Regions from separate parts of the Homo sapiens genome. Here region 2 is linked to region 1. The links come from fine-mapping of genetic effects on gene expression. A gene starts in region 1. The other region holds a variant in brackets. All regions are shown on one strand. Distances are from middle to middle. Region 1 holds the start of TMEM91 (transmembrane protein 91). Region 2 overlaps BCKDHA (branched chain keto acid dehydrogenase E1 subunit alpha).

Region 1 (5,373 bases):
CTGATGTGGGAGGATTCAAACTACAAACAAGAAAAATACATGGTATGTTTAAGGCCGGGTGCAGTGGCTCACGCCTATAATCCCAGCACTTTGGGAGGCCAAGGCGGGCAGATCACTTGAGGTCAGGAGTTTGAGACCAGCCTGGGCAACATGGTGAAACTCCGTCTCTACTAAAAGTACAAAAATTAGCTGGGCATGGTGGCAGGTTCCTATAATCCCAGCTACTTGGGAGGCTGAGGTGGGAGAATGGCTTGAACCCAGGAGATGGAGGTTGCAGTGACCTGAGATCGTGCCACTGCACTCCAGCCTTGCTGACTGGGGTTTTGCTATGTCGCCCAGGCTGGTTTCGAACTCCTAGGCTCAAGCAGTCCTCCCTCCTCGGCCTCCCAAAGGGCTGGGATTACAGGCGTGGGCCACCGCACCTGGCCTACAGTATGCTTCATAGAAATATGAAAAGAATGAGAGCAAGGTTGAGATAGAAAGTAACAGGGCATCCCTCCTGAGTAAAACAATCCTGCCCCCTCACGCTCTCGTCTACCCTCCCGTGGGTCTCCCTGCTTCTGTCGTCTGCCAGAAACTGGCTGAGCCAAGTGCACTTGCAGACGCCATCTGTTCTCCCTGGGAGTGGGGCCGGTGCCAGCGCCAGCATCTGGACTCTTGGCAAGGAGCCCTGGAGCCCTGGAGCGAGGGAACTCCGGCCCCACAAAGGCCAGGGAATCCTCCAGTCTGGTGAGACGGAGGGCTTCTGGGAAGGGAGGCCTATACAAGGCTCCATGAAGGAGGTGGAAGCTTGCAAGACGATGATAGTCTTGTAATCAGTCCGATGGAGATGGATGTAAATAATAATATTAATAAACACCATCAAATGTGTTCAGAGTGCTTTCTTTGCCAGGCTTTGGATAAATGTTGGATATCTGTTCTTTTTATTTTTTATTTTTCTATTTCCTAGGCAGCACCTAAACCAAAATAGGTTCAGAGAGGCTCCCAATGTTGGACATTTGTTGTTGCAGCAACTCTAAGTACTCTACATATGTTATCACATAAGAGGCAAGGAGCATTATCCCCATTTTGTAGGTGAAGAAATAGGGGTTCAGAGAGGTGAAGGCATTGTCTAGAGGCCACACACTCAGTGACTTAAAGAGCCTGGAAAGGGGCCAGGAATGGTGGCTCACACCTGTAATCCCAGCACTTTGGGAGGCTGAGGCGGGTGGGTCACCTGAGGTCGGGAGTTCAAGACCAGCCTGACTCATATGGAGAAACCCCATCTCTACCAAAAATACAAAATTAGCCAGGTGTGATGGCGCATTCCTGTAATCCTAACTACTCGGGAGGCTGAGGCAGGAGAATCGCTTGAACCTGGGAGGCGGAGGTTGCGGTGAGCCGAGATCACGCCATTGCCCTCCAGCCTGGGCAACAAGAGTGAAACTCCATCTCAAACAAACAAACAAAGAGCCTGGAAAGGAAACCAGGTCTATGTGGGTCCAAATGCTGACTCATGAACATCACTGTACCACGTGACAATCAGAGCATCACCCCCTACTGGACCCCACTCCTCAGCCTTCTTTCCCTAGAAACTCCTAACCCACCTGCCTCTGCTTCCTCCTCACCCATTGGCTTAGCAAGGGCCACAGGAACACAGCCCGGGGTTACAATATGCTGGGCTTGGTACCAGCTGTTTACTGTGGCCAAGTGAGCATGCAAGTGAGCCCGTTTATTTTCTTTTCTTTTTTTTTTTTTTTTTTTTTTTTTGAGACGGAGTCTTGCTGTTTCCCAGGCTGGAGTGCAGTGGCGCGATCTCGGCTCACTGCAAGCTCCGCCTCCCGGGTCCACGCCATTCTCCTGCCTCAGCCTCCCAAGTAGCTGGGACTACAAGCGCCCGCCACCAAGCCCGGCTAATTTTTTGTATTTTTAGTAGAGACAGGGTTTCACCGTGTCAGCCAGGATGGTCTGGATCTCCTGACCTCGTGATCCGCCCGCCTCGGCCTCCCAAAGTGTTGGGATTACAGGCGTGAGCCACTGCGCCCGGCCCGTGAGCCCGTTTCTTTATCTGCAAAACAGGGATTAAAAACAAGCCAACACCCCTTCAGCACTCCTCCGCAAAAAAACACCCCAAAACAAAATAGGCCAGGCGCGGTGACTCACACCTGTAATCCCACCGCTTTGGGAGGCCGAGGCTGCAGTGAACCCAGGAGTCTGAGGCTGAAGCGAGCAATGATTGCGCCACTGCCTTCCAGCCTGGGCGATCAGAGCAAGACCCCGTCTTTTAAAAAATAATAATAAAAAAAAAATCTGCCGGGCGCGGTGGCTCACGCCTGTAATCCTAACACTTTGGGAGGCTGAGGCGGGCAGATCACCTGAGGTCAGGAGTTCAAGACCAACCTGACCAACACAGCGAAATCTCATCTACTAAAAATACAAAAATTAGCTGGGCGTGGTGGCTTGCCCCTGTAATCCCAGCTACTCGGGAGGCTGAGGCAGGAGAATCGCTTGAACCCGGGAAGCGGAGGTTGCGGTGAGCCGAGATCACTCCACTGCACTCTAGCCTGGGCGACAGAGCAAGACTCCGTCTCAAAAACAAAACAAAACAAACAAAAAAACCAAAGTAAAATAGCAGCGACAACAACAACAACAACAAGAAAAACCCGGAGCTGAGAGGAAGAATGAATGCGATGATGAATGTAAAGCGTTTAACACAGGGCTTGGGTACAGTCTGCCCTCAATGAACCAATGATGTACCCCTAGGCAATTTACCTAACCTCGGCTTGCCAGTTTCCTCCCGCGTGAAACAGGACAATAAACGATTATGCCTCTTAGGGTTGTGCTGAGGAATACATGTGTATGTAAGTTTATTTGCAAAGCACTTAGAACAGGGCGCACGGTCCTTGTTGCTGTTATTATTATTGGCTATTATTGCGCAAAGGGGAAGGGAGGCGGGGCCAAGCCAGGAAGGCCCTGGAGAATCCGGGGTGCCCCCTCCTCCGGCAGAGCTTGGGCCTGGGCTCACGAGGAAGGGGCTGCAGTTCTCCAAGGATTCCCGCCTGCTCCCAGACCCCCGGGAGTCGTAGGAACCCGTTCCTGGACGCTGACGTCGGCTTTCAGGGATCCCTCGCCGGACGCCGCGGAGGGACAGAGCCTGGGAAGCCGTCGCCCCGCCCCGTCCCCGCCCCCGCGCGCAGCGGGCCCGGGGCGCTGAGACCCGCGTAGAGCAAAGCGCAAGGTCCCAGCGCCCCTTGGATCCTCGGTGGCAGGGTCCGGGCAAGTGTCATTGCGAGGGTTCAGGAAGCCCCGGCCTGTGATCGTGAGCGGTGAGTGAGGGACGTAGGTGGGTGGGGGTCACAGTCCCTTCCCTGGGTCCTGGAGTTGGGGATGAGAGGGCAAAGCTTTGGCGAGGAAATCGGCTCAGTCAAGGTTTGGAATGAGCAGGCAGGAGGCTTGGGGACCTTCCAGGGGGATCGTAGGACGAGAAGAAGAATATTCTTTCTGGTTGTGTTGCGTGTGTACGTGTATGTGTGTGCTGGGGTTGAGGGTGTTTATGGGGGCGAGGTGTGCAAAGGATTCTGGAGAGCTGGTGCATGTGTGGGAGTTGTGTGGAGTCATAGGTGTGTGGGTGGAGTAGGGCAGGGGTGCCTGGGCCTGATGAGTGGGGCAGGCATGCCAGAGGTCATGAGAATAGGAGAGAGTGCCGGGGTGCATGTGTGCGTGTGTGCACAGGTGTCTGTGGTTTGTGATGCAGTGGGGAGTAGGGTTGTGCACGGAGTCAATTGGGATAAATGTGTAAGAAGGTTGGGGACCTGAAAGGGGTGTTTTCTGGGAGCTGATGTTTTGGGGCAAATATTCAAGGAGTCCTTTGGGAGATGAATGTGTGGAGGTGGAGGCTGGGCTTGCCTAGATGGGGCTGTGTGGCAGGGGACTTCGGGGGGCAGGTCTAGGGGACAGAGGATGGGGAATGTAGACTAGAGTGCAGTTCCAGGCAGCACTGGGGGTAGGGGATGGGTGTGTGTGTGACTGGGAGGGGTGCCTGGGCCTGGATAGGTGGTCACGCGGTATGAACCTGGGATGGATATTGGGGGTGTTTGTGGGGCAGGTAAGTGTGTAAGGCATGGTGCAACAGGTGCTGCAACTTATTGGGGTAAGTGTGATGGGTATGTGGCTTTTGCCTGAGAGAAATGCCCAGAATTTGGCTGGGTGCGGTGGCTCACGCCTGTAATCCCAGCACTTTGGGAGGCCAAGGCTGGTGGATCCCCTAAGGTCAGGAGTTCGGGACCAGCCTGGTTAACACAGTGAAACCCTATCTTTACTAAAAATACAAAAAAAAAAATTAGCCGGGCATGGTGGTGGGCGCCTGTAATCCCAGCTACTCGGGAGGCTGAGGCAGAATGGTTTGAACCCGGGAGGTGGAGGCTGCAGTGTGCTGAGATCATGCCACTGCACTCTAGCGGATCTGCAGTGGTGGATCTGCCTGGGCAACAGATGGAGACTTTGTCTCAAAAAAAAAAAAAAAAAAGAGAGAGAGAGAGAAATGCCCAAAATTGAATGTCCAGACCCCTGAGTTCTCTTCATAACCTGAGGCCAATCTTTTTTTCTCTCTGGGCCTCAGCTTCTGTATCTGTAAAATGGGTCTGAGGACCACTGCACTAACTAGTCTCTGCCTGAGTCTCTCTAAAGCAAGGGGTCAGAGGTTGAGTGAAGTGAGACTTTTACAACTTGTCTTTTTCTTCCCCCTACCCCTAGGAAACCCCTCCTGGAGTTTCCCCAAAGCCATGGACAGCCCTAGTCTTCGTGAGCTTCAACAGCCTCTGCTGGAGGGCACAGAATGTGAGACCCCTGCCCAGAAGCCTGGCAGGCATGAGCTGGGGTCCCCCTTAAGAGAGATAGCCTTTGCCGAGTCCCTGAGGGGTTTGCAGTTCCTGTCACCGCCTCTTCCCTCCGTGAGCGCTGGCCTGGGGGAACCAAGGCCCCCTGATGTTGAGGTAGGAAACAGCAGGCCTTAGTGGAAGGCACGGGAGGGGGCTGGGGTGAGCCCCACTAAGGCCAGCATCTGGCAGGTTGACAGCTGTGCCGATCTGCCTTAGGCCTGGAGTCTCACTTCCCAGCTGTGTGTGGGCTTCTGAGATTTCCAGTTACGGTTCTTCTTGTTTTATGTCTCTCATCTTTGTTGCCTGGCTTTTGGCTCTGTCTTCCCTCTGATCTCAGACTCCGCTGGTTGGTGTCTTCAGAGTGCATGCACCTCTGGCTTTTGTCCACCCTGCTGTCTCCCTCTTTGTGTGTGTGTGTGAGAGAGAGAGAGAGAGAGAGAGAGAGAGACAGGGTCTCGCTCTGTTGCCCAGGCTGGAGTGCAGTGGAGCGATCATAGTTTACTGCAACCTTGACCTC
Region 2 (5,373 bases), 31 kb after region 1:
CTGGTCTTGAACTCCTGGCTTCGAGTGAACTGCCTGCCCTGGCCTCCCAAAGTATTGAGATTATAAGCATAAGCCACTGTGCCCGGCCAAAATTTTATTTATTTATTTATTTTTTTGAGATGTAGTCTTGCTCTGTCACCCAGGCTGGAGTGCAGTGGCACAATCTCGGCTCACTGCAAGCTCTGCCTCCCAGGTTGACGCCATTCTCCTGCCTCAGCCTCCCGAGTAGCTGGGACTACAGGCGCCCGCCACCACGCCCGGCTAATTTTTTGTATTTTTAGTAGAGATAGGGTTTCACCTTATTAGCCAGGATGGTCTCGATCTCCCGACCTCATGATCCGCCCGCCTCGGTCTCCCAAAGTGCTGGGATTACAGGCGTGAGCCACCACGCCCAGCCTAATTTTATTTATTAATTTATTTGAGATGGAGTCTCACTCTGTCACCCAGGCTGGAGTGCAGTGGTGCGATCTTGGCTCACTGCAACCTCCACCTCCCAGGTTCAAGCGATTCTCCTGCCTCAGCCTCCTGAGTAGCTGGGACTATAGGTGCGTGCCACCACGCCTGGCTAATTTTTGTATTTTTAGTAGAGATGGGGTTTCACCATCGTGATCAGCCTGACAGGCTGGTCATGAACTCCTGACCTTAAGTGATTCACCTGCCTCAGCCTCCCAAATCTGCTGGGATTACAGGCATGAGCCACCGCACCCAGCCATATTATTTCTGTATTTTCATTTGGCTTACCTGTCAACTTGACACTTTTTTGTTTTTTTAGGCTAGTCAGGTGAAGCAATGTGAGTAAGATCACCTGTCTTGATTATAACTTGTGTGTTCAGTGTTTGTCATTCATCCCTCCCTGTCTCTAGCCTTCAGTTCAGGGCATGATTTGGAGCAAATGTTCAGTATCTGTTTAACAAGAACAATCATGAGAAATACTTACTCACTACTTGTGTTTATGAAACATTATGTGCCAGGCACTGGGCTGAGCAATCCACACAGGTCAACTCGGTTAATCCTCATGACAACCCCTGAGATAAGTACTTATACCACCCTCGGTGTACACAGGAGGAAACTGAGGCTCAGGGAGTTTTTCTTTAAAAATTTTTTCTTTTTTTTTTCCTTGAGACAGGTCTTACTTTGTCACCCAGGCTGGAGTGCAGTGGTGTGATCTTGGCTCACTGCAGCCTCTTGGGCTCCAGCGATCCTCCCACCTCAGCCCCTCAAGTAGTTGGGGAGTACAGGTGTGCACCACCATGCCCAGCTAATTTTTTGTAGGGATGGGGTCTTGCCATGTTATCCAGGCTGGTCTTGAACTCCTGGGCTCAAGCGATCCTCCCTCCTTGGCCTCCCAAAGTGCTGGTATTACAAGTGTGAACCACCACACCTGGCCTTAAATTTTATTTATATATTTATTTTTGTAGAGACGAGGTCTCACTATGTTTCCCAGGCTGGCCTCGAACTCCTGGACTCAAGTGATCCTCTTGCCTCAGCCTCCAGAGTAGCTAGAATTACAGGCGTCTGCCACTGCACTTGGCTCAGGGAGTTTAAGTCACATAATCAGGCAGCGGTCTGCTCAGTTAGAGTCCATGCGCTTAGCCATGGTGCCTTCAAGTGACTCCACCAGGGTCACCCCAGTACTTCCTGGGCAGACCAGACCATCCAGAGCGGGCAGGTTGTGCTTTCCTGCATGGTGGGAGAGGACGTGGCATGAAGCTTTGTGTAAATCTGTGCAGCCTCTGCCATTGTAAATCACTGGCCACCGGGACAGACTCCCCCACCCCCTTCCAAAAACTAGAGGAACAGATGGGTGGAGTCGCATCCTTCCTCTGCAGGCATTTGGCCACCCACTCCCATTATGGAGCATTTCCTCAGGACCAGGCACAGCGTGGAGCCCTTTGCATAGCTCACTGAATTGGGGCAGCAACCCTGGGGCTGGGGACTACCATTATCTCCACCAGCCCAGCAAAGAGGGGAGGAGGGTACAGCCGAGACCCAGCTGCAGTATGTGGAGCACACTGGGGTGCCGTGAAGATAGCTGTCCAGCCTCTAGAGGCTGACAGTCCTGCCCTGACACAGTGGTTTGTTCTCAGACTCTGGCCTCCCCTCTTAGTGCCCGTCTGAAGACTTCAGCCTTCGGTCCTCTTCCATCAGCATGCCGTCTCCCCTGTGCCTCAGT[C/T]TCCCTCTCTGGAGTATCTGCTGGGGCCACAGTTTGGTTTTATTGTTCTTTGAGACAGGGTATCACTTTGTTGCCCAGGCTGGAGTGCAATGGTGCAGTCATGGCTCACTGCAGCCTTGACCTCCTGGGCTCAAGCCATCCTCTCACCTCAGCCTCCCGCAACTCCAGTATCTGGACTACATGTAAATGCCACCATTCCCAGCTAATTTTTTTTTTTTTTTTTAGATAGAGTCTCACTCTTGTCACCCAGGCTGGAGTGCAATGGTGCCATCTTGGCTCACTGCAACATCCGCCTCCCAGGTTCAAGCCATTCTCCTGCCTCAGCCTCCCAAGTAGCTGGGATTACAGGCACCTACCATCATGCACGGCTGTTTTTTGTATTTTTAGTAGAGACAGGGTTTCACTATGTTGGCCAGGCTGGTCTTGAACTCCTGACCTCAGGTGATCTGCCTGCCTCGGACTCCCAAAGTGCTGGGATTACAGGCGTGAGCCACCACGCCCAGCCTTCCTGGCTAATTTAAAAATTTTTCAGAGACGAGGGTTTTGCCTAGGCTGGACTCACTATGTTGCCTAGGCTGATCTCGAACCACTGGCCTTAAGTGATCCTCCCACCTCAGCCTCCCAAAGTACTGGGATTACAGGCATGAGCCGCTGCACATCGCCACAGTTTGATTTTAGTATCCACTTTAAGGTGCAGTTAGTTCTTCCCAGCTCCTCTTTTCCCTATCTCATACAGTGTAGTCACTTCCCTTTCTCCCACTTCTCACCTTCCTAGATTTTGTTTTTCTCTCTCTTACCAAGTTTTGAGTATGTAATACGTCCCAGATCGGTGCTGAACCCCTGGTGTGAGTTAACTTAGCAACTTTTCACGTGGTGTTCTGCAGCCTTCTTACAGATAAGGAAATTCAGAGAGGTGAAGTGTTTTTGCAGAGAGCCACACAATGAGCTAAGAAATTAGAACCCAGGGCAGTTGAACTCCAGAGCCAGGGAACTTAACAGCCCATTCATGCATTCACTCAGGAATTCCCTCTTGAGTGCCTGCTGTGAAGGCAACCTGGACGCTGTCTCTGCCTTCCTGGGATTGTGGTGTGTGTGGGAGACAGACACGAAACAAAGCAATCTTCTAGGTCAGTGTCTGGCTATGCTGGGTACTCAGAAGGGGGAAGCACTGTGCTGCAAGAGGCCGGCTGTTTCCTCCTCACAAGGGGAGGCCTGCAGTGACATTGCCAGGCCTGAATCTGCCCTGCCATTGGGAGTGTAATTTCCTCACGACTACAAATGCAAATAAATACACACACTGAACATGCTACCCCGCTAGAACTGTGGACAGCTTGTTCACTGCAGTTAAAGGAAGACGGAGGGACACATTTGAGCACGCATGTGTGAGATCCAGCTTGTGGCAAACCCTGCCATTCTTTAACATCTGTGGGAAGTGAAGCCACCATTACTGACCTCGGAGGAATCCCGGGAGTAGTGGGAAGAAAAGTTGCAGATGTTTGAAAATCAGGCTGCAGGGGCAGTTGGGGTGAGGAGCATGGATGTCTAGGAGCCTGAATCTCAGCGTTGGAAGCCCAGTTCTGATGTAATTTTTTTTTTTTTTTTTTTTTTTGAGACAGGGTCTCACTTTGTCCCCCAGGCTGGAGTGCAGTGGCACAGTCTCAGCTCACTACAGCCTCATCCTTCCAGGTTCAAGCAGTCCTCCTGCCTCAGCCTCCCAAGTAGCTGGGACCACAGGCATGTGTCACCATGCCTTTCTAATGTTTGTATTTTTTTGTGGAGACAGGGTTTCTCACTGTTGCCCAGGCTGGTCTCAAACTCCTGAGCTCATGTGATCCTCCTGCCTTGGCCTTCCAAAGTGCTAGGATTACAGGCGTAAGCCACTGCCCAGCATCCCCACCTTTTTTTTTTTTTTTTTAAATTTGTGGTTTGGTGCAGGTTATTTTACCTCCCCAGGCCTCGGTTTCCTCATCTACTCAAGGGCAATGGCAGATAATCAACCTCACAAATTCCCCGAGGAGTTAGTAGGCTTGTGCCTGCCAGGCTCAGCTGGCTTACAGCAGGTGCTTCATAAGGGGGAGCTATTGCAACGCCTCGGCTGGTTCTAGGCTGCCTAGCTCCAGAGCTAAGAGTCCCAGTGGGTTCATATCCCTTTGAGCATTTATAGGCTTCTCACAGGTCTCCTGGGCTTTCTCAGCCATTCCTCATCTGACCTGAGGAGGTGTGATGTCCTTGCAGGACTCCTCCAGCCCCTCTGAGCTTTTTTTTTTGTTTGAGACAGCATGTTGCTCTGTTGCCCAGGCTGGAGTGCAGTGGTGTGATCATGGCTTACTGCAGCCTCCACCTCCTGGGGTCAAGCGATTCTCCCACCTCAGCCTTCCAAGTAGCTGGGACTATAGGTGTATGTTACCATGCTTGAGTAATTTTTAAAATTTTTTGTAGAGATGTGATCTCAGGCTGGTCTTGAACTCCTGGGCTCACCTGGGCTCAAGTAATCCTTGAGCCCAAAGTGTTGGGATTACAGATATGAGCCACCTTGCCAGGCCCTGAGCTCCTTCTGTCTTCCATGAAGGACACACTATTCCTTGCCTTTTGTCTTTTTTTGTGTGTGTGGCAGGGTCTCTGTTGCCCAGGCTGGGATGTGTTGGTGCAATCTGGGCTTATTGCAACCTCCGCTTCCCGGATTCAAGTGATTCTCCTGCCTCAGCCTCTTGAGTAGCTGGGATTACAGGTGTGCGCAACCACGCCCAGCTAATTTTTGTATTTTTGGTAGACATGGGGTTTCACCATGTTGGCCAGGCTGGTCTCAGCCTCCCGAAGTGTTGGGATTACAGGCATAAGCCACTGTGCCTGGCCACTTTTTGTCTTTTGCATGTTCTATACACCTTGCCGAGAATGTGCTTTCCCTGCCTCCTGGTTATCCCTCAGGTTTCAGCTCTAACATCACTTCCCCAGGGAAGCCTTACCCTCGCTTTCTTCTGCTATAGGATAATATGAACCACCATCATTGTTACTTGTTTAGTGTCTGCCCTCCCTGCTAGGCAGCAAGGACAGATATCTTGCCTGTCTTAGGTCCCCAGAACCCAGCACAGGGCTTGGAACATGTCAGGTGCTCAAATATTTGTTGAATGAGTCAGTCTGGGCTCGCAGAGGGAGCTGGGACCAGAGTAGAGTGGACACTGAAGCGTATGTAGCAGTTTGCC

Evidence for each region. PIP is the estimated chance that this variant, and not a neighbour inherited with it, causes the effect. A credible set is the group of variants that fine-mapping cannot tell apart.
Region 2: its variant is the best candidate, but not a certain one, in a credible set for the expression of TMEM91 in whole blood (TOPMed, PIP 0.87).

What each region holds. Positions count from the first base shown.
Region 1 is chr19:41,373,550-41,378,922 of GRCh38, forward strand. It overlaps TMEM91 (transmembrane protein 91), which reads left to right and starts at 2,984. Exons shown (of 4, transcript NM_001098821.2): 1 at 2,984-3,305; 2 at 4,732-4,970. The coding sequence starts at 4,761. RefSeq lists a silencer at 3,100-3,229.
Region 2 is chr19:41,404,192-41,409,564 of GRCh38, forward strand. All of the region lies in intron 1 of BCKDHA (branched chain keto acid dehydrogenase E1 subunit alpha), which reads left to right. Among named protein-coding and RNA genes, the nearest start is that of BCKDHA, 9.1 kb to the left of the region's middle. RefSeq lists enhancers at 2,380-3,334, 3,335-4,290. The variant C/T (reference allele first, on the strand shown) is at 2,174.